Linked DNA regions of Homo sapiens: regions 1, 2, 3, 4, 6 and 7 are each linked to region 5. Evidence: fine-mapped expression QTL. A gene starts in region 5. Each other region holds a variant in brackets. All regions are shown on one strand. Distances are between the middles of the regions. Region 1 has its middle 71 kb from the start of MIR4468. Region 2 has its middle 100 kb from the start of MIR4468. Region 3 has its middle 21 kb from the start of MIR4468. Region 4 holds the start of LOC124901755 (a long non-coding RNA gene). Region 5 holds the start of TRIM24 (tripartite motif containing 24). Region 6 has its middle 12 kb from the start of MIR4468. Region 7 has its middle 59 kb from the start of MIR4468.

Region 1 (4,068 bases), 260 kb after region 5:
GTCTGATGTTTAAGGGCAGGAAGCATCCAGCATGGGAGAAAGATGTAGACTGGGAGGCTAAACCAGTCTAGTCTTTCCACATTCTTCTGCCTGCTTTTATTCTGGCCACACTGGCAGCTGATTAGATTGTGCTCGCCCAGATTGAGGGTGAGTCTGCCTTTCCCAGACAACCGACTCAAATGTTAATCTCCTTTGGCAACACCCTCACAGACACACCCAGGAGCAGTACTTTGCGTCCTTCAATCCAATCAAGTTGACACAATATTAACCATTATGGGGCATTTCAGCAACACCATCAACCCCCATAGATACACCACCAGATTTTTAACTCCCCCTCACTTTTTTGCTATACAGATTGGCATGACTGTTTCTTCTTCTGCTGCTTCTGCTTCTGCTTCTGCTTCTGCTTCTGCTTCTGCTTCTGCTTCTGCTTCTGCTTCTGCTTCTGCTTCTCCTTCTCCTTCTCCTTCTTCTTGACAGAATCTTGCTCTGTCGCCCAGGCTGGAGTGCAGTGGTGCGATCTCACTGCAACCTCCACCTCCTGAATTCAAACAATTCTCCTGCCTCAGCCTCCCAAGTAGCTGGGATTACAGGTGTGCACCACCACGCCCAGCTAATTTTTGTATTTTTAGTAGAGATGGGGTTTCACCATGTTGGCCAGGCTAGTCTCCAACTCCTGACCTGGTCATCCACCCACCTTGGCCTCTCAAAGTGCTGGGATTACAGGTGTTATCCTCCATGCCCAGCCAGCATGACCGTTTTAAACATTTTTAACACTGAGGAATGGAATACATATGTAGAAAAGGGAATAAAACGGCTGAGCGCTGTGGCTCACGCCTGTAATCCCAGCACTCTGGGAGGCCGAGTTGGGTGGATCACCTGAGGTCAGGAGTTCGAGACCAGCCTGATCAACATGGTGAAACCCCGTCTCTACTAAAAACACAAAAAATTAGCCGGGTGTGGTGGTGAACGCCTGTACCAGCTACTTGGGAGGCTGAGGCAGGAGAATCTCTTGAACCCAGGGAGGTGGAGGTTGTAGTGAGCCAAGATCATGCCATTGCACTCCAGCCTAGGCAACAAGAGCAAAATTCCATCTCAAAGAAAAAAAAAAGGGAATAAAACATAATTTTGCTAGCTTGGGGTCCTTCGAGAAGCAGAGGCCAAGAAGGGATTAAATGTGCAATGATTTTATAAAGAGAAATACCTTTGGGAAAGTAAATAGAGAGGGAATCGGAGAGGCTTTGGGGAAAGGCTAGGACAGCAATTGTTCCCCTGCAAGTCTGACCCAGGGTGAAAGAGAGAGAGATAGATTTGTCCTAAATTGACTTGAAGTCTAGGGAAGGTTTGGCAAAGCTATTGGGGAGCCCCTCAGCTGAAGTTTGTGGTTGCAAGCCTCCTGTATCTCCTAGGATCTGTTCTGCCCTGCTCTACCTGTCAATCTCAGCCATGAGTGGAGCAGCCTCAGGGCCAATCCTATTGTTGTGGGTGGGGTTGGCCTTACCACAATGCTGCAGTGGGGTTCTGAATGCATCTACGCCTTCAGTCAAGTAATACTCCTTGTAATAGGAGGGCTGGGTGGTGCATTCTCGTAGGCTCCACAGTAAATGTTCAGTACAGTAAATATTTATAAGGCAAACACTTGTCTGATTATCAGCTAGATTAAGACAGGAAATTTCATAATATCCCTGTGTTTTGAAACAACATCTGGCTCAAACTCCTCCTTTTCCATGGAGGAACCACAATTCTGCTTTTTATGAATGTTGGTCACTTCTTTTGGTCACTTGCCATTCTTTGGTGTTTTGCCAATTATGTATGTATTCCTAAACAATAGTTTAGTTTTGCTTATTTTTGAACTTCATATAAATGGAATTAGCATGTATGCTTTTGTGTCTTGCATTTTTGCATGATATTAACTTTAAGATTCATTTATATTATCGTGCGTATCTCTAGTCTGTTTACTTTTATTGCTGTGTGTATTTCATTGTGTGAACATCTCACAATTTATCCATTCCAATGTTTTTCCTGCACGGGCTATTGCAAACAATGTTGAGTATATAAGACCATCAGGATACATGTACGATGTCAAATGTTTTTGTGAGAGAAAGGTCCAAAGGCAGCCAGTGTTCCCAAGAAGAAGAAGAACGCTGTGCTTGGTACAGGAGGTGCTGACCAGCTCACTAAGCAAATTGCATGCAAGAGCTCAGAGCGCACCGGACTGTACCTGTTCCCTCTTTACTGAGCACAAGTAAACCTTTCTCAAAACTGCTTAACAGGCTGGGCGTGGTGGCTCATCTCTGTAATCCCAGCACTTCCGGAGGCAGAGGAGGGTGGATCACCTGAG[A/G]TCAGGAGTTGGAGACCAGCCTGGCCGACATGGTGAAACCCTATCTCTACTAAAAATACAAAAATTAGCTGGGCATGGTGGTGGGTGCCTGTAATCCCAGCTACTCAGGAAGCAGAGTCAGGAGAATTGCTCGAACCTGGGAGGCAGAGGTTGCAGTGAGCCAAGATCATGCCATTGCACTCCAGCCTGGGCGACAGGAACAAAACTCCATCTCAAAAACAAACAAACAAACAAAACAAATAAAAAACAGACTACTTAGCCATGCATGTGTCAGGCATGCCTCCAGCTTTTTGTATTTCAGACCTCATGGGGCAAGGGTCTGGGCCCAGCATACTACAGCCCAAAAAGGGCTGTGTGTGGCCATGCTGCCTGGATTGGATATGAAGTGTATCTGCTGGTTGTGGGGACCGATATCTTGCAAGGGACTGGATTTTGTGTTCTCACTCGTCTTGCTGTAAATAGATGCTTGACCCTGGTGTGCATGTTGTCTGTTCTCAGTGACCTTGACTCATGCTCTGGTCTTCTCTTCCCTGGGCAGCACTTACCTGCTTCTTGACCTTGGCCACACTCATGTCATATTTTATCCCGTGGCACCATCTGACCACCTGGTAAAACAGTTCCTGTATAAATATCCTGGTGCAGATGCACATAATTTTCTCAGGGAATATGTCCCTGGGTCACTACATGGATCTCTGCTATTTACATATTTATTTTTCACTCTAGTAGTTAAATATGAAGAGCTTAGCATGATGTTGGTGGGTTTTTGACACAGAATTAAACAAGTAGAAAAAAATTTAATTTTCTTCCTTTAAAACCTCGAACATAAAAGAGAAAAAGGATTAAGATTCATAACAGTCGATGAGAGAAAGAGGGAAGTGTAGTGGAGAGTGGTGAACGAGTAGGTTGGAGACCTGTGTGCTTACTCAGGGTGACCCTGGTGTGTCCCTGGACCTCAGTATCTTCATCTCTTAAGTCCCCTTCCGGTTTAAACATTCTAAGATTGAGATAAGATAACTAGCAGCAATTTCTATCCCTTTCAACCTTATTCTAAAGGTATCCTAATCAGTTCTTTTGAACGTTAATTTTTTTTTTTTTTTAAGGGAGTCTCATTCTGTCACCCAGTCTGGAGTGCAGTGGTGCGATTTTGGCTTACTGCAACCTCCGCCTCCCAGGTTCAAGCAATTCTCCTGCTTCAGCCTCCCAGGTAGCTGTGACTATAGGCGCTCGCCACCATGTCTGGCTAAGTTTTGTATTTTTAGTAGAGATGGGGTTTCACCATGTTGGCCAGGCTGGTCTTGAACTCCTGACCTCAAGTGATCAGCCTGCCTCGGCCTCGCAAAGTACTGGAATTATAGGTGTGAGCTACTGTGCCCGGCCTTGCATATTAGAATTTTTAAATGCTTGTCATTGTGCAGCTCATGTGCTCCTTGGGTGTGGACGTGGTCTCTCCTTTGTGAATTGACAGCTGAGGATACTGGCATTCACGCAGCCCCAGGAAAAGCCCAGGGAAAGAGAATGGTGATCCTATTAGTTTGAAGATGGCAGCACAGAACAATTCTTTGGTGCAGTGGAAGATTAAGAAGCACACAAGGATAGTTTGAGCTTAGGAGTTTGCAGCTGCAGTGTGCCATGATCACGTCTGTGAATAGCCACTGCACTCTAGCCTGGGCAACATAGCCAGGCCCCTCTCTCTAAAAAAAAAAGACATACACCACGAAGTAAATTAG
Region 2 (4,068 bases), 230 kb after region 5:
TTCTTACATCAGAAATAGATTTATTTTGGTGTCTATTTTGGATTTTGGAGACTACTTTTTTGGTTTTTGTTTTTTTCCAAAATGGAAATCTTTTTTGTTGTTTTTGCTGATTATAAATGTAATTTGTGGTCATGAAAAAGAAAAGAATACCGAAGAATATAAGGTATTTATACAAGAATAAAGTGAAATTGCCCCCAGATAATACCTTTTGGGGATATGTGGTTAAAACAAAACAAAACAAAAAGTAATTGATGTTATTTTCCAGAGCTTATTCCATCCATCCATCCATCCGTCCATCCATCCATCCATCCGTCCATCCATCCATCCATCCATCCATCCATCCATCCATCCATCCATCCATCGATCCATGCCATCTTTCCATATTGAAGAGCAGAGAGTTTGGGAAAGGCAGGAAGGAATGAATTCTTCTCAGAGAGAGGAGGACTCACACACAGTCCGTCATCGCAGCACTGTTCAGGCTGGCCTGGGAGCCGAGGATGGTAGCCCTGTTGTGTGGTGTCTGCAGAGCTGTGTGCTGGGAGTTTGGATCTCCACACTCTCGTTTTAGCCAGGTTTCTAACTCATGTAAGACAATGGGCAAATCATGCAACCTCATCTATGAAATGTGTGTCCTTTGCATGCTAGTACACACTGAATTTTTGTTTGTTTGTTTTGAGACAGGGTCTGGCTCTGTCACCCAGGCTGGAGTGCAGTGGTGCAATCTCAGCTCACTGCAACCTCTGCCTCCCGGGCTCAAACAGTGCTCCTACCTCAGCCTCCTGAGTAGCTGAGACTACAGGTGCACGCCACCATGCCTGGCTAAGAAAGGGATTATTAATTTCTTTTATTTCCTTTTTGTTGTTTGTTTGAGACAGATTCTTGCTCTGTCTCCCAGGCTGGAGTGCAGCAGCATGATCTTGGCTCACTGCAACCTCCACCTCCCAGGTTCAAGCGATTCTCCCTGCCTCAGCCTCCTGAGTAGCTGGCATTATAGGCGTGCGCCACCAGGCCCAGCTAATTTTTTTTTGTATTTTTAGTAGAGCTGGGGTTTCACCATGTTGGTCAGGCTGGTCTCAAACTCCTGACCTCAAGTAATCCGCCCGCCTTGGCCTCCCAGGATGCTGGGATTACAGGAGTGAGCCACTGCGCCCAGCCAGGATCATTAATTTTGGATATTATTTTTATTTACAAGAGCATCTAATTGGTGCAGTACTACAGACCTATGCCCTGAAATACTCTAACCAACATTTGACATGGTGTCTTTTTTCTTTTTTCTTTTTTTCAGTCCCATAATGGCTACTTAGCTCGCTTCCTTCAAGCTAAGCTTAAAATACTTAATGTTACTGAGGAATAGAGGCAAAACAGATGTCTGTGTTAACTCTGAGAAAATGCCTCAAAAATTGATCATGTCTTGTCATTGATAAAATGATAGTAGCACTGGCATCAGTAACACAGACAAGGGTTTGGGAGTGGTTGTCTATGCACACTGAATTTCAAATATGTGGTTCTCAGCAATACAGGGGGTTTTGTATGGAGCTGAATGAACCTTCCATAGTCTGAAAGCCAATCTTTGGGAAACAAATATCCGGTTGCCATGGAGACACTCAAGGTGGATGAAGGATGGATTAATCAAAATACAGTAAATCCTTTTTACGAGCTCCCTAAGAAATCTAGTGTGAAGAGAACCCTCTGCTCTGTCTTCTCTTTTTCTCCCCTCCATCACACAGGAAATCCACCATTGATGTACAATGACACACATTTATTGTACTGAGTTATGTGTATGTGCTAGTGAATGACGCTCTCTCTTGCCTGAAAGATACAGTCAGTCATATCAGCACAAGGGTACCCAAACATTATTTTTACAACCGTTTTTGAAATTTAAGAAAAAAAATCATATATTCTTTGCAACGAAAAGAAAAAAGAATAGTTAGAAACAACTGCTGAATAAAAATTGTGATTATTTATTAACTGAGCTACATTCTCTGGGGCATAAAGGATATGAAATCACTTGCACTGAGATGGTAGCTGCATTCAG[G/C]CTGAGTCTCAGTGCACAACTAATCTGATCATTTCAACTGTTCAATTTAGTCAAAAAACAAGTCATCTCAGTCACAGTATCAGTTAAATAAATAAATGAATGCATCTAAATAAATTATTCAGTTGAATAAATTAAGTGAATAAATAAATTAAATGGCTATTCCTCTCCTTCCTAACAAACTGACGGGTCAAATTAATCAAAATAGTTAATCCAGTTGTGGAAGACATTTCCAGAAGCCTCCAGTAAATCATTCTTGGGCAGCCAATTCAATTTTAACTCCTGGTCTTGAATAGCCATGGACTCAGGCTGCCTGGATGAGCTAGCGTACAGAATCAAGCGGATGTGAGTAGGTTTTGGACACCCTCCAAGGACAGATAAAGGCTCACAGTGAGGATGTTGGTTACTGCAGGCAAGGGGCCTACAGGAAGTCCAGGAGGACCAAACAGAGGCCACAGGCAGGAGGTTTTCAGGGCCTACACTCGTGTTCTCACAGGCTGAGGGAAACACAGAGGATGGGAATTCCACAGGAGTTCAGCATAGAGCGGAACAGTGGTTCTCAACTGGGGCTGATTTTGTTATCATTGGGGAAAGGTGTGTGTGTGGTTGCTACTTGCATCAAGTTAATGGATTCTAAGTAGCACAAAATGCTGCTAAACATGCTACAATGCACAGGCAGCCTCCTGCAATAAAGAAAAATGTCAATAGCGCTGAGAATGAGAAATCCTGGAGGAGGAGAATAATAGTTAATTTTTTTTTTTTTTTTTTTTTTTTTGAGACAGTCTCACTCTGTCGCCCAGGCTGGAGTGCAGTGGCACCGTGTCAGCTCACTGCAACCTCTGTCTCCTGGGTTCAAGCAATCCTCCTGCCTCAGCCTCCCAAGTAGCTGGGATTACAGGCGCCCACCACCACACTCAGCTAATTTTTGTATTTTTTAGTAGAGATGGGGTTTCACCACGTTGGCCAGGCTGGTCTTGATCTCCTGACCTCGTGATCCACCCACCTCAGCTTCCCAAAGTGCTGGTATTACAGGCATGAGCCACCGTGCCTGGCCCTAGTTAATTATTTCTAAGTAGCATTTTAGATTGAGCACCAATTCATAGATTTACTAACAGAACAGAGGGTTATAACCTCTGATCTCAGCTATAAGAAATCAGCTCCCAGTTTGGAATCTGAAGCCCTGGGTCTCGACCTGAGCCTTGCTTTTTATTATGACTGGCAAGACGGCAGCCTCTTTGAGCTCAGCTACTTAATTTGTTACATAGTGATAGTAATAGCTGCCTACCTTATAGTAAATGCTATAACAGATATGAAAACATGGAACAGTATCAGTGGTCCTAAAATAATGATTGGAAATTAACAAGCCTGGATTATCTTATCCATATGGTGTTTTTTTGTTTGTTTGTTTGTTTTCTTCTTGAGGCAAAATGGCTTACTTCTGACCAGTGGTGACATTAAGAAGAACAAAAAGAATTGATTTGGAATTGATCACTCATTTTGGATCTTCATTTGTAAAATGCCCATTTATTGCTTGAGTTGGGGGCTACCAGGTGTGAGGATGCAAGTTTGAAGAAGGTATATTTCTTTGCACTAGGAAAAAAAATAGAATAGGTAGAGAAAGAATTGGGGAGGGCCAAGGGGGAAGCAATGTAGCTAAGACAACAATCATGATAAACGAAGGATGTAAGTTTTGCTGTGAGAGATACAGTGTAACTCTCTCTTCAATCTCACTGTAAAGTCTTTAGTAAAATCTTCTTCACTCCACTATGCCTTATGAGTTCATACTGGTTTTATATCATTTTGTTTTTTATACAATCAAGTACTGAGTCCTGCTTTGCTGTGAATATGCGGGGCTACCACTAGCCCATGTTAAGGAACATTATCGAAAACTTGGACCTAAGGCGAAAGGTGATTAATGTCATGCTAAGAACATTTCTAGCAAGCCCACCCAAGGACCATCTGACTCAGGAAATTTAAGCTTGTTGGCATAATTCATTAGAACCCAGAGACTTTGCAATTCTGTAAAGTTGATCTGG
Region 3 (4,068 bases), 320 kb after region 5:
GTGCGCCCACACTCCTCAGCCCTTGGGTGGTCGATGGCACTGGGCACCGTGGAGCAGGGGGTGGCGCTCGCCGGGGAGGCTCAGGCAGCACAGGAGCCCACAGAGTTGGGGGGAGGCTCAGGCAGGGCGGGCTGCAGGTCCCGAGCCCTGCCCCGCGGGAAGGCAGCTAAGGCCCAGCGAGAAATTGAGCACAGCAGCTGCTGGCCCAGGTGCTAAGCCCCTCACTGCCCGGGGCTGGTGGGGCCAGCTGGCCGCTCCGAGTGAGGGGTCCGCCCAGCCCACGCCCACCCGGAACTCGCGCTGGCCCGCAAGCACCGCGCGCAGCCCCAGTTCCCGCCCGCGCCTCTCCCTCCACACCTCCCAGCAAGCTGAGGGAGCCGGCTCCGGCCTTGGCCAGCCCGGAAAGGGGCTCCCACAGTGCAGCGGCGGGCTGAAGGGCCTCCTCGAGTGCCACCGAAGTGGGAGCCCAGGCAGAGGAGGCGCCTAGAGCGAGCAAGGGCTGTGAGGACTGCCAGCACGCTGTCACCTCTCACCATCACCCCCCCCCGGATGAAACTGTCTAGTTGCAGGAACACAAGCTCAGGGCTCCCACTGATTCTACATTATGGTGAGTTGTGTAATTATTTAATTATATAGTACAATGTAATAATAGAGATAAAGTGCACAATCAATGTAATGTGCTTGAATCATCCCGAAACCATCCTCCACGCCCCCCTCCACCAGCCCCCGCTTCACCCCCGTGCATGGAAACATTGTCTTCTAATAAACCAGTCCCTGGTGCCAAAAAGGTTGCGGACCACTGAATTAAAGAAACAAAGATGGCCGGCGCGGTGGCTCACACCTGTAATGCCAGCACTTCGGAAGACTGACGCGGGCGGATTCACCTGAGTTCAAGACCAGCCTGGCCAACATGGCGAAACCTCGTCTCTACTAAAAATACAAAAATTAGCTGGGCCTGGTGGTGGGCGCCTGTAATTCCAGCTACTCGGGAGGCTGAGGCAGGACAATCGCTTGAACCCGGAAGGCAGAGATTGCAAGGAGCCGAGATCTCGCCACTGCACTCCAGCCTGGGAGACAGACTGAGACTCTATCTCCAAAAAAATAAAAAGAAAAAAAGACATAATTATGAACCACTAGGACCCTTGGGGGAATCATTATTAAAATCTAAGTAATTTTATTATTTCCTTCCAAATATAGCAGCATAATCTCTGTTTCTCTCTGTTTTTCAATTTCCATGTCTCTTATAATAAGACAGTCTCCTGTGTTTACTCCCTTGGGTAGGGCAACACTAAAAGAAAACGGCCCAGATGATTGCAATGTGAATAATGGTATGCTCTGTTGCTGGGGTAGCTACTGCTATGCTACTGCTTAGCTATGTTACAGCTCCGCAGCTGTTACCCCATTAGGTAACAGAAAGACTCAAACCTCATGAGACACTGGAAGGAGATGAGGAATTGCCTCATTACAGCCTCCTTGACAGATAGAAAAGTGAGTGAGAATGGCCCCAAGCATCTCCTCAAAAGCCTCCCATGTGCTCAAGGTTCAGAAGGATGCAGGATGTTTGGCCGAGGCTCAGATTAGCTGCAGTTCAAACTTGGCTCATGTGGTCTATGGATATATGCAAGGTCACCATGAGCCAACAAGGGGCCATTATTTTACATTACGTAAAATCTGTCTTCAGGAGCTTACTCCAAAGGATGTATGTGTGAGGCATTCCAAAGGTGTCTAACACCAGTCTCCAGTTCAAAGAGCATAGAAATAGAGGTGGAAATTGATGGTGCTAATTATCAGGTACAGCTTTGACTGATGACACCTGTGCATAAGGGTCATCCGTTCATGCCACACATCTGTGAAGAATGATCCTAGAATTTTTTGGTTGTGATCAGTGATTTTTTTTTGAAATGGAGTCTTGCTTTGTTGCCCAGGCTGGGGTACAGTGGTGTGTTCTTGGCTCACTGCAACCTCTGCCTCCCAGGTTCAAGTGATTCTCCTGCCTCAGCCTCCCAAGTAGCTAGGATTACGGGCATGCACCACCACACCTGGCTAATTTTTGTATTTTTAGTAGAGACGGGGTTTCACCATGTTGGCCAGGCTGGTCTTGAACTCCTGACCTCAGGTGATCCACACCCCCATCCACCTCCCAGAGTGCTGGGATTACAGGCATGAGCCACTGCGCCTGGCCATGATCAGTGTATTTGGAGCCTTGTTATTTTCTGTTCTGCCTTTTGAACTCTTAGTTGCCCAAGGCCATTTTGGACAAAACTCTGTTGTGATCTTCTTTGCAGTTGGCTGGTGTAATCTATGTGCTGCAATTGTTTCTCAGCTTTCCACAGTTGACTCTGGTGTTTAACATTTCCTTTCAGAGTCTCCTTTCCCAGAAGGCAGGTGGACTTAGCAAGAGGAGATAACTAGTTTTAGGGTTTCCAGGACAATTGTTGG[G/A]CTGTTCATGTCATTGGCTTCTTTGCCTTCCTCAGGGAGATGTTAGGAGGTAATATTTATACATAACACAATCATAGTGTATCTGACCTTACATAACCCAAGAGATCCTTTTAATACTGATATGCCTTCCTGTTTCCTCCTTCCATTGTCTCATCTCTCCCCCATCCCCAGCTTCATCCTGGAAGTAAATGCCAGAATCAGCTTCACTCTTTCCTTTTTATCTCCTGCCTTTTGTGTGATTCTTATTTATTTATTTGTTTGTTTGTTTGTTTGTTTTTTTATTTACTGGAGACAGAGTCTGACTCTGTCACCCAGGCTGGAAGTGCAGCAATGATCGTAGCTCCCTGAAGCCTCAAACTCCTCTGCTCAAGAGATCCTCCTGCCTCGGCCTTCCAAAGCGCTGGGATTATAGGTGTGCGCCATTGAGCCTGGCTTGTGTGGTTCTTTGAAGTCACCCCAGGCAGTGTTTTGCTTCTCTCTCTAGTCTCAATACTTGTGTTACCTGCCCTTTTCAGGTACAGTATTCACTTTGATTAGAAAGAAGTGGATTCCAACCAGAAGAACAAATGTGGCTATTAGTAGATCCTTGGAACTCTGTGTGTATAGCAAGGAATAGCGCTGGTGGAGTGCGAGGTCATTGGTGTAACTTTTTGAAGTGCAGGTCTTTAATGAATTATCTGCTGATTCCCTAAAAGCTTCTGCTTTTTAAATTTTTAATTGACTCCAAGGTTGGAACATGTCTAAAATTGCTCTTGTCTTTGCAGAAGCTGTTCACTGCAAGTGCTTTGGATTGCAGTTTACTCTTATTTTGTTGTCAATCCAATCTCTTGTGCTTTCTGTTTTTGAGAGTTTTAAGTTCACCGATAGTATGCTTTCTTTATTCTAAAGGTGATATGAATTTGGTCTTTAAATTGACTTTCTGCATAGTTATTTTTAAAAATTGGGAACAGGAAGGAAAGTAGATAACCAGCTTAATCTGATGTCTTATTGCTTCCATCTTAATAGCAGTCTGTTATTTATCAGAGCAATTTTCTCTTGGCTTATACTGAAGACATAATTTATAATTTGTAATTTCTGTTTCCTGCATGAACTCATTTTCACTGGGACTCATTTGTCCATGTGCTTCAAATGCAAACATTGAAAGCATGAAATCCATTATCAGTTTAATAATCTGAGAACAGATAAAATACATAAAAATAGGTGAATTATAATGGATGGGCTGTTTACTTTAAGTGCTATAGAAATAAACCTAAAAGGATTAGTTTTCAGTTGTATGCAATGAGCTGAAAGCATGGCATTAGGAACCAGTACCCTTTAGCATCTATCAAGAAAGAGTCTTGTGTTAACAGGCTTCCTCAGCCCCAGTTCTATTGACATTTGAGGCCAGATAATTATTTGCTGTGGGAAGTTATCCTGTGCATTGTAGGATGTTTAACAGTATCCCTATCCTCTACCTATTAGATGCTAATGCCACCTCTGTGTCCCCCACCCTAGTTGTGACAACCAAAAATATGTGTAGACATTGCCAAACGTCCCCTGAGGGAGCGTGGGACAAAATTAACCACAGTTAAAAATCTGGCCAGGCGCAGTGGCTCACGCCTGTAATCCCAGCACTTTGGGAGGCCGAGG
Region 4 (4,068 bases), 100 kb before region 5:
TCTTATTGAGCCCTGGCAGGCATTTTACATATTATTATGTTATTGAGTCTTATGAAGTAGGTATTATTACCTTTGTTTTGCAAATTAGGAAACTAAAAGTTTGAAAACATAATTTGAAAAAAGTCACACAGCTAACACCAAGCAGCACACCAAGGCTTTAATCCAAATCTAGTCTGCCATATCATTACCAAAACATGTTCGGGTGCTTAGCTGGCTGTTAAGATACTGAGTAATTACAACTTAGAGGATGAGTCTCCATAGAAGAAAACATTTTCTGTTTTTTGTTTGTTTGTTTGTTTGTTTTTTGAGATGGAGTCTTGTTCCGATCTTGGCTCACTGCAACCTCTGCCTCCTGGGTTCAAGTGATTCTCCTGCCTCAGCCTCCCAAGTGGCTGGAATTACAGGAATGCCCCACCACACCTGGCTAATTTTTGTATTTTTAGTAGAGATGGGGTTTTGCCATGTTGGTCAGGCTGGTTTCGAACTCCTGACCTCAAGTGATCAGCCCACCTCAGCCTCCCAAAGTCCTGGGATTACAGGCTTGAGCCACTGTGCCTGGCCAGAAAACATATTTTCAAAGCAAAGTCTCCAAGAACAACCCTGGTTGATTACAGGAAGGCTGGGTGAAGGAATCACAAATGAGGCTGAAGCAGAAATAAAAAAGAGAAAAACAAGTTTCCCTGTACTTAGCTGACTCACTCCAAGGCCAGCAATATGCAGGGCCCTGGCAAAGCTTTGATAAAACTATCTGGAAAGCCAGAGCCCAAAGGAAGGAGCTCCAGAGACTCTCCCAACACCCCCTCAGAGCAAGCTTAAGCAAATCAAATTCCTTTACTATCTCCTCATCCCCCTTACCATTACTCAATTTCCAAGTTTTGTAAGTTCCTGTTTTTCCTTCAATGCAGCTGCAAGGTCACAAGCTATGCTAAGGATTATGAAACCTGTCACTGATTAACTGCCTTTGTTCTGCTTCTGTAAGCCTGCTTGCCTACACCATGAATTTCATGCCATTAGATTCCCACCACGCCATTTAAACTAGCCAACCCCCTTTCAGAAGTGTGTATAAAAGTCAAGCCCTGTCTTTGTTCAGGGCCTAGCCTTTGGATGTGAATCCGTTGGGCCAGTGGCCACTTAAATAAAATCCTCCTCTTCTACCTATTGGTCTCTCCAGTCCTCTGATTCCTGAAACATTTTCTGGGGGCTCGCCCGGGATTGGAGACGAAAGGTTTACTGTCTCTTCGCCTGTGAGACTGGAGCCCCAGGCCGGGAGAGACCTGTGACCCCAGGCGCCACTGGGAGAACTTCAACCCAGAGGGGTGATCAGCTCTCCCTTGACCCTACCTGACAGCACAATGGAACCTAAGCAGGAACAGGATGATTCCAGGAACAGTGCACTACAGGATTGTGGTAAGGTTTGAGCCCGAGGCAGGACCTGTCCCATAAGAATGGAAGGGGAGCCTGATCACCTCCCGGGGTGTAACTAGTGGTCAAACACAGGACGTGAGAGTGGCTTGCAAAGTCAGGGAAGCTCACAAGCTCACACCCCAACCAACCCAGGACATGAGAGTGGCTTGCAGAGTCAGTTGAGAAAGAGGAACTGGGAGCGGGGAAGTGTGTGAGTGCATGTGAAAGAGGCGGTTCCAGGAGGAACCAATGCGGGGAGTGATGTGTGGGGGC[C/T]GCAGTTCTCTTAGCGTAGACCATACACTCTGAGAGAACCATGGGACTGACCGGGACTAACAGTGTTCCACATATGGCTTAGGGAGGTGCCCCACAATTTAGTAATTGTGGGGGTCAAAACAGAGCCTCCAATGCTAAGTGGCATCTGAAATACTCCTGCGAGGGGGACGGTCTAATCGGTCCGAAGTGAAAGTGAGAGTGAGTGTGTTGCGCTGTAACTGGGAGGAAATGAGAGGGAAGTCGTCAAAACCCACCCCATTACAATGTATGTTAAAGAATTTTAAGAAAGGTTATGCAGGGGATTACGGGATGAAGTTGACCCCTCAGAGGTTGAGAACTCTGTGAAATAGAATGGCCCTCTTTTAGTGTCGGATGGCCAGCCAAAGGAACCACAGATAGGGAAACAATTGGCCATGTATTTAAGGTGGTGATTGGGGTCGAAGGACAGCCAGGGCACCCAGACCAATTCCCTTATATTGACTCATGGCTAAATGTAGTTCAAACTTGACCTGCATGGTTGCAGCCCTGCCTGGCAGCTTACTGCAAAATGCTTGTGGCTCAGACCGAGCCTAAAGTGAAAGTAAAATCAGCTTTGCTGGCAAATACGGAGACAAAGAAAAAGTCATGGGAAGGGCAAGAGAAACCAGTTTTGCAGGAACTGCCAGAGGAGATAGAAATTCCTCTTCCATATATTCCAATCTACCCCCATTTACTGAGGCCAACGGCCCCCAAGGAGTCAGATTCAGATGGTAACATGCTCCAAGACTCACCCCAAAAGGAAAGATCGGAGCCCCAGGAGGTCAGGGAAGAAAGATAAGATGATCAAGTGGGCTGCCTCCAATCTGGTCATGCTTGGGCTATGCAAATGCCTCTTAGGGAGACACGGGGACCCATCTATTATGATGAACAGGGTCAAGTCCAAGGGGGGCAACGGAACTTCATCTACCAGCCTTTTACAACCACTGATCTCCTAAACTGGAAACACCATACCCCCTCCTACATGGAGAAGACCCAGGCCCTCATAGATTTAATGCAATCCATCTTCCAGACACACAATCCTACGTGGCCAGACTGTAGGCAGCTCCTCTTGACACTGTTTAACACTGAGGAGTGCTGGAGGGTAATCCAGGCAGCTCTCTGCTGCCTAGAAGCCAGTGCACCTGAAGGCACACTTAACGTTCAGGCATACACTCAGGGCCAGTTTCCAGAAGCAGACCCCCACTGGGATTCAAATCATGCAGTCCAATTACAGTACCTACAGAGGTACCGAGAAGCACTCTTGCAAGGGCTAAAGGAAGGCAGGAAAAAGGCAATCAATATAGGAAATATCTCAGAAGTTCTTCAAGGAGCTGATGAGAGCCCTAGCCAGTTTTATGAGAGACTCTGTGAGGCATTCCAGCTTTACACTCCGTTTGACCCTGAGGCCTCTGAAAATCAGTGCACAGTGAACACGGCATTTGCAGGACAAGCCCAGGGTGACATCAGGTGGAAGATGCAAAAGCTAAAAAATTTCGCAGGCATGAATGCCACCCAACTTATAGGAGTGGCCACCAAGATGTATATTAACCGTGACCAAGAGGCAAAAAAGGAAGCAGATCGGAGGCTTAGGAAAAAGGCCAATATGTTAGCAGTGACCCTTACGGTAAGGGAAACTAGCATTGCAAGAGGGTGCGGATGTGGACACGGGCACAGACGGAGATGGGGCCAAACCAGACAGAGGCTCAAAAGCCGGCTGAGGTTAGATAAGCACCAATGTGCATGATGCTAAAAGGGACACTGGAAAAAATCAGTGTCCAGAGGGCAGTGAAGAAAATGGCGGAGGCTATGAAACAAAAATGCCACCAGTCAAAGGCTGCTGCACCCTGAAGGAACCAGATACCGACCTGATCGGGGTGGCAGGGACTGAAGAATATAAGGACAAGGACAGACCAGGCTCCTTCTCCTTAGGCCCCCAGGAGCCCATGGTCACATTAGAAGTGGGGGGCCAGCTAATGGACTTTATGGTGGACAATGGGGCTGAATAGCTGGTAGTAACCCGATCCATAGGACCACTATCCAAAAACTATACAACTATTGTAGGGGTCACCAGGGTCTCAGAGAAGAGGCCACTTTGTTGGCCAAGGAGGTTCGTTATAGGAGGACAAGAGGTCCAACATGAATTCCTGTACCTCCCAAATTGCCCAGTTCCCCTGCTGGGGAGAGACCTACTCTGAAAACTGCAAGCACAGATTGCTTTTGGGCTACAAGGGGATATGACTCTAAACCTGACTGACCCAAAGGCCATGGTGTTAACCCTTACCGTCCTGCAAACTGAGGAATGGAGGCTATACACAAAAAAGCCACCAGAACTGTCTCACAAACCAGGAATACTTGAATTATAGAGGCTACTTA
Region 5 (4,068 bases):
CTAAAAAGTATTAAAAATGCTTTTCCAGTTACACTGTATTTTTAAAAAGGAGGTGCTCAAATATTTGCAATAATAAAATTTAAAAACCGCCAAGTGTTCTACCCGAAACTGTACTCAAACTTACTTTAAATGTTTCAAACCTGTCAAAGTTAGCAATGGAACACCTGTCAAAAGTCTAATTTTACAGTAATAAACACCACAAAGAGAACAGTAACTTCCAGCTTTATCTATAAAATACCAGAAAACCCAAATCACTTTGTATTATTTCTCTTCGCCGTCTCAAAATAAAACCTTTGAAAGAGACACACAACAAAACAACGTCTCTTGGTTCCTTTGTCCCCAGCAGAGGAGAGGGAAGAGAACTGGGAACTCATTAAGGTAAAGAGCCCCAAACATGCAAGATAAGAAATAAATGACATCCGATCTGCAATCAATCATCAAAGAAAGTCACCATCACTTCATCTTCATCCCTCCCTTCTCCCCTGCAGCTCAAATAACGTGAGTATAGACGAGATGATCAGGATCATATGGACCTGGACAAAGCTTTGTGGAGGCAGCGGGCGGGTAGCAGTTAACTGGCTGCAGCCGGCAAAGAACCCGAGATTCCGGCTGCAGGAGACTCCGACAGAGGTCTGCAAAAGTGCGAGTGGCAGGGGCCGCCCGGCTGTTGAGAATGCGGAGCAGCGGCGGCGGCGGCGGCGCGGTCAAGTCCACAGCGCCCGGGGAAGTTGCTGGCCGAGCGCGACACGCCGCAGAGCGCGGGCCCTCCATGTCACCGTCGCCAGCACAGACCCTCCTGCTCGCCCCTCCCCCGCCGCGCACCCCGGGCGGCGGCGACATGACAGCGGGTCGCGCCGCACAAGGGCGCCCGCCCCCTCCTGGCCCTCTCCCCGGGCTCCCCAGCGGCCGCGGCCGGTTCTCACCTTGGGTGGCGAACGGCGACGAGCCGCTGACCGGCGAGCCGGGGGCAGGGACGGGTGGCGGGGTCTCGGCCGAGCCCAGCATGGGCGCGGGCAGCATGAGGTAGCGCTGGGGCGCGGGCAGGCAGCGCTGGCAGAAAGAGTGCAGGCAGGGCAGCAGCTTGGGCGCCCGGCTCTGGATGTTCTGGTGGCACACGGCGCAAGTGTCCAACAGGTTGAGCCGGGCCGCCTCGCCGCCGCGCTCCGAGTCCGGGCCCTGCCGACTCTCGGCCTCGTTCTCCCCGCTCGGCGCCGCCGAGGGCCCCCCGGAGGCCGCAGCCGAGGCCGCTGCCGCCGCCGCCACCGCCTTCTCCACCGCCACCTCCATTGTCCTGCCCTTGCCGCCGCCGGGGAAGCGAGAGCGCGGTCTCCGCCCGCCGCCCCCGACGACCTCCTCCTCCTCCTGCGGCTGCTCCTCAGAGGCCGCTCGGTGGACTCGCGGCAGCGCCAGCGAGGGAGGGAAAGCAAACCGGGCGGGGGAAGCCTCCTCAGGCCCACGGGATCCGCCTCCCGAGTGGCGCGGCCGGAAGGAGGGTATCTGTCAGCGGAGACCGTTCCTCGCACCGGGGAGGCTGCACCCCGTCCGCTTCGCCAACCGCCGAGGCGCTCGTGGAATACGCCCAGCCCGCCCTTGCCTCCCCGCCTTTCTCTTCATCCCCCTGGCCCACCTCAGGCCCCGCCCCCGCCCCCGCCCTCCCTCTCCCAGCAACTGAGGCTTCGGTGTGGAGCGCGCCGCCCAATAGCGGCCGCGCCTGGCGAGGGGGCGGGACCTGTTGGAGCCCGCGAGGCTCCGTCGGCCGCGGCGGGAGGTTGGGAAGTGGGAGGTGCTTGCCCAGCCCCGCCCCCTCCGGACGCCTGAAATCGCGGCTTCTGATTGGGCCTTTGTGTATGTTTCCTCCTCTGAAAAGATTAAGGGTTCATTTGTTAACGACCATCCGCCTGATTCGGTCCGCGGTGTTAGCTCCTCCTAGGGGGCGGGACCTCACTTGTCTACTCAATGCCGTTAATTAAGTAACTGCTTGGAAAACTGATTTCATTACTGGAGACCTGGTCTTGTAGGAGGAGTAAATATGGTCGGAGGGTCACAGGAGGAAGGAGTGGAGGTACTGAAGAGCAAACAAGGAAATAATTTTTTAAAATACTGTGTGAAAGAGGTACTCTGGAGGCAGCAGGGATATTGCAACCTAATTTTACTCATCTCTAGAATGAATGAGTATGAAGAATAAGGGGGGGAAGTTCTCGTGCAAGTTGGAAATTTTTAAAGGGTTTCCCCAATGAAAAAGGTGAAATTAATTTTTAAAGTCAGTGATTTGCTTTTTAAGTGACTAAAAGTGGTTCGTTTTCCCAGGAATTAATACAGATTGACAAATGTTTTTATTGCATAAATATAGCATCATTAAGCAAAAATAAACCTCAATACTGTTACCCAAATAATTCATAACTTCAGGATTCTTTTGTATTTCCTCCCTCCCTCTTATTTTATTCCCTCCCTCCCTCCCTCACCTCTCTACGCTGATATCAGAAGTTACGCACATTTTTCACTCAAAAAATGGCGCAGCTTTTAAGGAACTTGAAGAATAGAAACGGAATGAAGGAAACAAGATTTTGTAACACGTAACTTTAAGAAGTATTTACCTTTTTTTTTTTTTTTTGTCAATACTAATGAAGCGGTACTGGACTTTAGAGAAAGATGGAGTGGGTCATGAAAGGCTTTGCTAAAATCACAGTTTTCCTGGAGGACTATATGGGATGGCAATGGGGGAGGGCTAGGCAACGTAGCCTTCCTTCAAGACCTTGCCCTTAAACACAACCTCCGTAGGCCTCAAGTGAGAGGTTCTTTTACTTAATCACAAGACATTCAACAGCTCTTCCCGCCTCCCCCACCCATTGGTTCCTGTTTAAGCTTGGGATTTTTTGTTTGTTTGTTTTTTTGCATGGAAGTAGCTCTTAAACCTTAGTTTGCATAAGAATAACTTGAGAAGCTTAGTGAAAAACAGGTGCTTGGGCCACCTCCGTATTCAGTTATTCAATTTTGATAGCATCTCAAGTGATTCTGACCTGGGTGGGTCCAGAAACGGAAGTCTGTCCCACAGGTCTTCACCCACTCACAAATCTCTCCACGATTTCGTCCGTATATGCCTCTCAAGCTGAAGTCGCCGCGACTCTCATGCTTCATGCTGCAGCAATTGTAAGGCCACCCTGCTTTGTACACGCTGTTCCCTTTGTTTTAGTTCCTTCAAAATTCTGACTTATCTGTTATCCCCTAAAGCCACCCCAAAGTTGAACACTCCTTCCCCAGAATTCAAACCATATTGTATATTTTTGAAGCTACACCTTGAAAACATTCACATAATAGGAATGGAATTTTGTATTCAAAAATCAACTCCCTTAATATGCTAAAAATTCATTACATAGGTGGTATACAGGATTCAAGCCTACTAAAGACAAGTCCCTCTTATTCCCCAGATGATGGTGGTAGGGAAGGAAAACTGAGAAGTAAAATTGAATAGGCTGGTTTTGAAAGAATTCCATGTAATTTGATCAAACCCACTAGCTTAAAGTTTTTCAAATCACCATGGTTTTACAGAAAATGATCTTCCATCGTTTTAGCCTTCCTAATTTCACATGAGTAAAACAATCGTACATTGTACTTTGTTCACATATATGGAACTTCAAGTCCAGAAAATGAATTTACTGTTTGTTTTTCTTAATCATATGATTTCTTTATTTGGATATTGTTGCCCTACAAAGCGTGTTCAAATATATTTCACAAAGATCCACACTACCAATAGATTACTCTTCCTTAATTACAGCTCTCATCCTATGTCCCTCCCTTATCCCATAATTTTCTGTGGCTCTCCACTGCATCCAAAGCTCTCCACAATTTTATTCCCATCTGATCTTCTTGTCTGATGTTACTGCTTTCCCATATCCATCCTGTGCTTCCGCCTAATTGGATGATGCGCTGTTTCTTGTTTCTTAACTGCACCACTACCACCACCTATGAGAGAGGAGATCAAAGCTGTCTGAACTGGAAGAGAAGGGCATCAGCAAGGAGAATAAAAGCATCAGATGCTGGCCGGGCGCAGTGGCTCATGCCTGTAATCCC
Region 6 (4,068 bases), 320 kb after region 5:
AGATTTTCCAGACAGAAAATCAATAAGAAAACATTGGACTTGAACTATACTTTAGACTAAATGGACCTAACAGACACATACAGAATATTCCATCCAACAGCAGCAGGATACACATTCTTCTGAAGCACACATAAAACATTCTCTAAGATCATATATTAGGCCACAAAACAAGTCTTAACAAATTTCAAAAATTGAAACAATGTGGTCAGGAGTGGTGGCTCCTGTCTGTAATTCTAGCACTTTGGGAGGCTGAGATGGGAGGATCGCATGAAGCCAGGAATTTGAGACCAGCCTGGTCAACGTATCAAGACTCTATTTATGTATATTTTAATGTATTTATTATAAAAATCTATTATATGTATCTATGTATATTTTTGTATATTTTATAAAAATTAAAAAAAATGAAACTATGTCAACTATCTTTTCCAACAACAGTGGTATGAAATTAGAAATAAATAACAGAAGGAAAACTGGAAACTCAGAAATATATGGAAATTAAACATCATACTCCTGAACAACCAATGGGTCAAAGAAGAAATTGAAGGAGAAATTAAAAAAAATATATTGAGACAAACAAAAATGGAAACCCTACATAACAAAATGTATGGAATGCAGTAAAAACAGTTCCAACAAGGAAGTTTATAGCAATAAATACCTACATTAAAAAAGAAGAAGGATCTCAAATAAGTAATCTAACATTATTCCTTAAGGAACTCAAAAAAGAAGAACAAACTAAGCCCAATGTTAGTAGAAGAAACGAAATAATACAGATCAGAGCAGGAAAAAAAAAAGAGAATAGGAAAAGAATAGAAAAGATCAACAAAACTTTTTTGAAGACATAAACAAAATTGACAAACCTTTAGCTAGCCTAAGAACAAAAGAGAGATGACTCAAATAAAATTAGAAACCAAAGAGGAGCCATTACAGCAGATAACACAGAAATACAAAGGATTGGCTGGGCACAGTGGCCCAGGCCAAGGTGGGTGGATCACTTAAGGTCAGGAGTTCGAGATCAGCCTGGCCAACATGGCAAAACCCCGTCTCTGCTAAAAATACAAAAATTATCTGGGCATAGTCGTGTGCGCCTGTTGTCCCAGCTACTCAGGAGGCTAAGGCACAAGAATAATCTGAACCTAAGAGGCAGAGGGTGCAGTGAGCTGAGATCGCGCCACTGCATTCCAGCCTGGGCAATAGGGTGAGACTCTGTCAAAAAAAAAAAAAAAAAAAAAAAAAAAGAAGGAAATACAAGGATCATAGGAGACTACTATGAATAATTATATAACAACAAATTGGATAACCTAGAATAAACAGATAAATTCCTAGAAATATACAACCTGACAAGACTGAATCATGAAGAAATAGAAAATTCGGACAGATCAGTAAGGAGATTAAATATTAAATCACTAATAAGCCAATGTGGTGGCTTATGCCTGTAATCCCAGCACTTGGGAGGCCGAGGTGGGCCGATTACGAGGTCAGGAGTTTGAGACCAGCCGGACCAACATGGTGAAACCCTGTCTCCACTAAAAACATGAAAATTAGCTGGGTGTGGTGGTGGGCACCTGTAATCCTAGCTACTTGGGATGCTGAGGCAGGAGAATTGCTTGAAACTGGAAGGCGGAGGTTGGAGTGAGCAGAGCTTGCACCACTGCACTCCAGCCTGGGCGAAAGAGCGAAACTCCATCTCAAAAAAAAAAAAAAAAAAAA[G/AG]AAAAAGAAAAAAGAAAAAAAAGCCTTAGACCTGATGGCTTCACTGCTGAATTCTACCAACATTTAAGGAAGCATGAGTACTAGTACTTCTCAAACTCCTCAAAAAATTAAAGAGGAAGAAACACTTTCCAACTGGATTTGTGAGGCCAATATTATCCTGACATGAAAGCCAGACAAGAACACTCCAAAAAAAAAAAAAAAAAAAATTACAGCCCAATATTCCTGAGGAACGTAGACGCAAAAATCTTCAACAATAGACTTGCAAACCAAATTCAATTGCATATTAAAAGGATCACTCACCATGATCAACTTGGATTTATGCCTGGGATGCAAAGATGGCTCAACATATGCAAATCAGTAAATGTTATACATTGTATTAACAAAGTGAAGGACAAAAATCATGTCAATAGATGCATAAAAAGCATTTGACAAAATTCAGCATCCTTTAATGATTAAAACTCTGAACAAATTAGTTATAAAAGGAATGTTCCTTAGCACAATAAAGTCCATATATTACCAGCCCACAGCTAACATCATACGCAATGGTGAAAAGATGAATATCTTTTATCTAAGATTGGGAACAAGACAAGGATGTCCACTATTAAGAAATGGGAAACACCAAGTGTTTTTCCTAATCCCACATACCCCTCAGCACAACACTTCTAATGCAAAATGTGTAGGGGCTCTTCACCAGACTTCCAAGCCATTCTCCAGCAGACACCAACTGGGTGTCCTACAACTTAACTCAATTCTGATACCATCTACCTAGAGATAGAGTCAGATCCCACAGGTTAAGGACTCAGCTCCTTGAGACTGCCCCCATTTCAGATGTCAATGGTAAGCCTCAGGTTGTGACCTGTGCTTCTGACCGGTCAGCTCTAAATTGGGGTTCTCAAGACCCCCTCCTTGGGTTCTATTAATTTGCTAGAGTGGCTCACAAAACTCAGGGAAATACTTTACTTACATCTACCTATTTATTACAAAGGATATTTTAAAGAATACAAATGAACAGCCAGATGAAGAGATACATAGGGTGGAGTCTGGAAGGGTCCGGAGCATAGGAGCTTTCATCCCTATGGAGTTGGGGTACACTACCCTTCCAGTATGTAAATGTGTTCACCAACCAGAAAGCTCTCCAAAACCTGTCTCTTTAGGTTTTTGTTGTTGTTGTTATTGTTGTTGTTGTTTTTAGACAGAGTTCCTTCTCTGTTGCCCAGGCTGGAGTGCTGCAGTGTGATCTCAGCTCACTGCAACCTCTGCCTCTTGGGTACAAGCAATTCTGCTGCCTCAGCCTCCCAAGTAGCTGGGACTACAGGCACGCACCACAATGCCCAGCTAATTTTTGTATTTTTAGTAGAGATGGGGTTTCACCATGTTGGCCAGGCTGGTCTTAAACTCCTGACCTTAGGTGATCTGCCTGCCTCAGCCTCCCAAAGTGCTGGGATTACAGGCATGAACCACTGCACCCAGCCATCTTTAGGTTTTTAATGGAGACTTCATTAGGTAGGTATGATTGGCCTTTGATGACCAAATCAGCCTTCAACCCCTCTCCCCTCCCTAGAGGTGGGGGGTGTGGCTGAAAGTTTCAACCCTCCAATCACATGGTTGGCACCCCTGGCAACTATCCTGTGGTTATCTAGGAGTACTCAGTGATCAGCCATCTCATTAGCATACAAAAATACATATCGCTTTGCAGATTTCAAGGATTTTAGCAGCTTTGTGCCTGGAACCAGGGACAGAGACCAAGTATATATATATTTTATTATATCACAATATTACACTCACTCTCACCACTTTTTTTTTCAACATAGTACTGAAGTCCTAGCCAAAGGAATTGGGCAACATAAAGAAATAAAAGTCATCCAAATCAGAAAAGAAGTCAAAATGTCTCTGTTTGCTGATTACAAGATTTTATGTATAGAACAACCTAAAGATTCTACCCAAAAGTGTTAGAATTAATAAATGAATTCAGTTAAGTTTTAGGATACAGCATCTACATATAAAAATCACTTGTGTTTCTATACTTTGGCAATAAACTATCTGAACAAGAAATTTTTTAAAAAGTCACATTTATAATAGCATCAACGGGAATAAAATAATTAGAAATAAATTTAACCAAAAAGGTGAAATATCTGTATACTGAAAACTATGAAACATAATGAATTAATGAATAAAATTGAAGAAGACACAAATAAATAGGTATTTCATGTTTATGGATCAGAAGAATCAATATTGGAAACTTGTCTATATTACTGAAAGTGATCTATAGATTTAATGCAATTCCTATGAAAATGCCAATGTCATTTTTCATGGAAATAGAAAAAAAATCATAACATTTATATGGCACCTCAAGAGACCCTG
Region 7 (4,068 bases), 280 kb after region 5:
GGCTGGAGTGTGCAGTGGCGCGATCTCGGCTCACTGCAAGCTCTGCCTCCTGGGTTCACGCCATTCTCCTGCCTCCGCCTCCTGAGTAGCTGGGACTACAGGTGCCCACCACCATCCTGGCTAATTTTTTGTATTTTTAGTAGAGACAGGGTTTCACCGTGTTAGCCAGGATGGTCTTGATATCCTGACCTTGTGATCCGCCCGTCAGTGCTGGGATTACAGGTGTGAGGTCCCCCCACCATGCCCAGCCTAATTTTTTAAAAAAATACATATTTTTGAGACAAGGTCTCACTCTTTTGCCTATGCTGGAGTGCAGTGGCATGATCATGGCTCACTGCAGCCTTAAACTGTTAAGTTCAAGTGACCTTCTTGTCTCAGCCTCCCTAGTAGCTGGGACTACAGGCATGTGTCACCACTCAGCTATTTTAAATTTTTAAATTTTTTGTGGAGATGGAATCTCACTACGTTGCCCAAGCTAGGCTTGAACTTCAGTTCCCAAGTGATCCTTCCGCCTCAGTCTCCTGAAGCGCTGGGATTACAGGCATGAGCCACTGAGTTTGTCTAATGCTATTTCTTGACTTCAGTTTTAGCTATTATTTATTGTCATCCCCCTATTGTGGAAAAAGACGCTTTGGCTCTTTTTACCATAATACCTTTGTCTTCTTTCTCTAGTCTCAATACTATTATTTAGTTTCCAAACTCATTGTCAGAAGTATAGATCTTTTCTCAATACATTCGCGCACACACACATACACGCACACACACATACACACACACACACACACACACAGAGAAATTGGTGAGAAAAAGTGACCTGATAGAATAAGAGTGGAGGACATGAAAAGACATTTCACAAAAAAGAAATACAAATGTTAAAACATTTATGAAAAGACGTTAAATCCAATTCATAATTAGATGAATGCAAATTAAACTGAATATACCATTTTTCACTTCTCAGATTAGCATAATCTGAAAGTTTTACAATGCATTCTTGGCAAAGCTGCAGAGAAACAGGCTCTTTCATACACTGCTGTTGTGATTGCACGTGTTATAAAGAATCTCTATGTAGGGCAATTTGGCAATATCCCCCAAATTACAAATGCATTTATTCTGTGACCTGAAACTCCTACTGATGAGCATTTATCCTTGAGATATACATATATAACGTCAGGAGTATATCAAATTATTTGTCACATTAAGGAACATTAAAAAGAAAATAGTAGGCCGGGCGCGGTGGCTCACGCCTGTAATCCCAGCACTTTGGGAGGCCGAGGTGGGTGGATCATGAGGTCAGGAGATCGAGACCATCCTGGCTAACACAGTGAAACCCTGTCTCCACTAAAAATACAAAAAATTAGCCAGGCGTGGTGCTGGCGCCTGTAGTCCCAGCTACTTAGGTGGCTGAGGCCGGAGAATGGCGTAAACCCGGGAGGCGGAGCTTGCAGTGAGCCGAGATTGCGCCACTGCACTCCAGTCTGGGTGACAGAGCGAGACTCCGGCTCAAAAAACAAACAAACAAACAACAAAGAAAATAGTAAATAATGATGTGTGTGTGGAAGATGGTGGTCAGGATGGACGGAGACATGGATGAAAACAGATATTTTATGTTTCTAAAAACTATATGAATGTACTGCCTATTGTAATTCATACATAATGCATTCGTATGCAAATGAAGAATCTGTTAAAATAAAAGTTGATAAATGGCAATTACTCTTCTCTCTCTCTCTCTCTCCATACCCATCCATCCATCCATCCATCCCTCCATCCAGTTTGAGACACTGCTGATATTTGTTCTGGATTTCATGTCCTCCTTCCTCCCTCTCCATTCTGGGTGAATTCTCTTCTAGTCTTGTTTTATAGTTGTTGTTTTAAAGAGTCTGCCCAGGTACAGTGTCTCATACCTGTAATCCTAGTGCTTTGGGAGTCCAAGGCGGGAGGATCGCTTGAGGCCAGGAGTTCAAGTACAGTCTGAACAACATAGTGAGTCCATGTCTCTACAAAAAAAATATAAAATTTAGCTTTGTGGTGTGTGCCTGTAATCCTAGCTACTCAG[G/A]AGGCTGAGGTGGGAAGATTGCTTGATCCCAGGAGTTTGAGGCTGCAGTGAGCTATGATCACACCATTGCATTCCAGACTCCAGCCTCGGTGACGGAGAAAGGTCTCCTAACCGCCATTTTCAGAATTTCCATTGTCTCTCCTCTGTGCTAGACTCTCTATTTATTAAATCCTATGTCTTATTTTCCTTAGTATTCTCCCTTGTTTGGGTAGAGACTGTGTTCCAGTGCTTATAGAGATTTGGCGTGTAAAGAAAAAAGTTTGTATTCTGTCCTCACATTGGATTAATATTTTTTTTTGTCAGTAGGCTGCAAATGATTTCTGCTATGAATTCTGAAGTCATTGCTTCATCGGTTTCTAGATTTCAGTGTTCCCACTGAAATCTGATGCCAGCCTGATTCCTGATTCTTTGTACTCGATGTGTTTTTTTTACCCTTCTCTGCAAGTTCTAAGGGTCTTCTTTTTGTCTCTGGTATTCTGAAACGTCATTGCAATGAGCCTTGGTGTAGTTTCCCTCTCATTTGTAGTCTTGTTTCTAGGGGACTCCTTTTGATCTGGAAATTGGCTTTCCTTAGTTGGAAACAATTGTTGCTGTTATGTCTAGCATCACTTTCTCATGTTAAAACTTAGTTTCCTTTCTCTGGAATTCCTATTACTTGGCTTAAATCCTAAATTGATCTTTTAATATTTGTTATTTGTTCTGTGTTCATATCTTTGCCTTTTGCTCTACAGTATGGGAGATTTCCATGGCATTATGTTTCAACCTTTCTATTGAAGTATTTACTTCCACTTCCATATTTTTAATTTCTAAGAGCTTTCTGAATGTTTCTTTTTATACCTTCTGGGAAGAAAAGGATTAGCAGCTGGTTTGTAACTTACTCGACTTGACTTGGAAATGCCAGGAAAAAAAAAAAAAAATAGAAAGGACCAAGTCAAATCTTGCAAACTAGCTAATGGGATAGCATCTACAAGCAGAAAGAGGTCTCATTTCTGGAATGATTTTACCAGGATGTACCGGGTCTGGCTAGGTTGCTCTTGCTGTGCAATTCTGGAATCCATGCATACATGGAGGCATGGCCCACTCGAAAATGTCAGTGTCTGCTATGTAATTGTCAGAGTATAAAAAGAAGATTTTTGTCAATAAAATAGCTCTATTTGTGTAATGGATGTCTTATATATACTACTTAGAACCTTACATGTTAACTCTGGACTACAGAATGTTATAAAGTGGCAAGGAAGGACTGGGGATCCGCAGTGGTCATTTCAGACTTTTCCAGGTTTTGCCTACATGTCATGATCACCTGTATCCTTTGAATAATTAGGTTTTCTGTTGGTTTATTTGTTTTGAGACAGAGTCTAGATCTGTTGCCCAGGCTTGAGTGTATGGCACAAACATGGCCCATTACAGCCTCGACCTCCCTGGCTCAAGTGACCCTCCCATCTCAGCCTTCTGAGTAGCTGGGACCATAGGCACATGCCACCACACCTGGCCAATTTATTTTTATTTTTTGTAGAGATGAAATTTCACTATATTGCCCAGACTGGTCTTGAACTCCTGGGCTCAAGTGATCCTCCTGCCTGGGCCTCCTAAAGTCCTGGGATTACAGGCATGAGCCACTGCACCTGGCCTAATTAGTAAATTTTGATACTGGCTAAGATCTCTGATTCTTATGAGTTTGATTTGATAATCTCATCCTTGGGGTTACCTCAGCATCCCATTTCATAGATTCAATATCTTCTCTTTTCTCTTTGAGGATATCAATTACGGTTTTAATTTCTTATTTAATTTTTATTGTTTTAGAGATGAGCCTTACTCGGTTGTCCAGGTTGGAGTCCAGTGACATGATCATAACTCACTGTAGCTTCAAACTCTCAGCCTCAGGCCATCCTCCCATCTCACCTTGCTGATTAGTTGGGATAACAGGCGTAAGCCACTACAGCTACCCTCAATTATGTTTTTAAAGTCATTTTTCACCGGCATTGTCTCTTTTTCCATCCAATTCCTTCTCTCTTTGT

Evidence for each region.
Region 1: its variant is fine-mapped to the expression of TRIM24 in whole blood (TOPMed, PIP above 0.99).
Region 2: its variant is fine-mapped to the expression of TRIM24 in whole blood (INTERVAL, PIP above 0.99).
Region 3: its variant is fine-mapped to the expression of TRIM24 in whole blood (INTERVAL, PIP above 0.99).
Region 4: its variant is fine-mapped to the expression of TRIM24 in whole blood (TOPMed, PIP above 0.99).
Region 6: its variant is fine-mapped to the expression of TRIM24 in whole blood (INTERVAL, PIP above 0.99).
Region 7: its variant is fine-mapped to the expression of TRIM24 in whole blood (TOPMed, PIP above 0.99).

Annotation. Positions count from the first base shown.
Region 1 is chr7:138,192,908-138,196,975 of GRCh38, reverse strand. No RefSeq gene overlaps it. Among named protein-coding and RNA genes, the nearest start is that of MIR4468, 71 kb to the right of the region's middle. The variant A/G (reference allele first, on the strand shown) is at 2,342.
Region 2 is chr7:138,224,577-138,228,644 of GRCh38, reverse strand. No RefSeq gene overlaps it. Among named protein-coding and RNA genes, the nearest start is that of MIR4468, 100 kb to the right of the region's middle. The variant G/C (reference allele first, on the strand shown) is at 2,036.
Region 3 is chr7:138,142,446-138,146,513 of GRCh38, reverse strand. No RefSeq gene overlaps it. Among named protein-coding and RNA genes, the nearest start is that of MIR4468, 21 kb to the right of the region's middle. The variant G/A (reference allele first, on the strand shown) is at 2,440.
Region 4 is chr7:138,562,727-138,566,794 of GRCh38, reverse strand. The region is part of intron 9 of TRIM24 (tripartite motif containing 24); the gene reads right to left. LOC124901755 (a long non-coding RNA gene) reads left to right here and starts at 1,092. Exons shown (of 2, transcript XR_007060556.1): 1 at 1,092-1,407. The variant C/T (reference allele first, on the strand shown) is at 1,678.
Region 5 is chr7:138,457,768-138,461,835 of GRCh38, reverse strand. It overlaps TRIM24 (tripartite motif containing 24), which reads right to left and starts at 1,577. Exons shown (of 19, transcript NM_015905.3): 1 at 924-1,577. The coding sequence starts at 1,287. RefSeq lists silencers at 706-1,185, 1,216-1,465, 1,526-1,915 and enhancers at 1,426-2,208, 2,612-3,122.
Region 6 is chr7:138,133,570-138,137,637 of GRCh38, reverse strand. No RefSeq gene overlaps it. Among named protein-coding and RNA genes, the nearest start is that of MIR4468, 12 kb to the right of the region's middle. The variant G/AG (reference allele first, on the strand shown) is at 1,708.
Region 7 is chr7:138,180,757-138,184,824 of GRCh38, reverse strand. No RefSeq gene overlaps it. Among named protein-coding and RNA genes, the nearest start is that of MIR4468, 59 kb to the right of the region's middle. The variant G/A (reference allele first, on the strand shown) is at 2,054.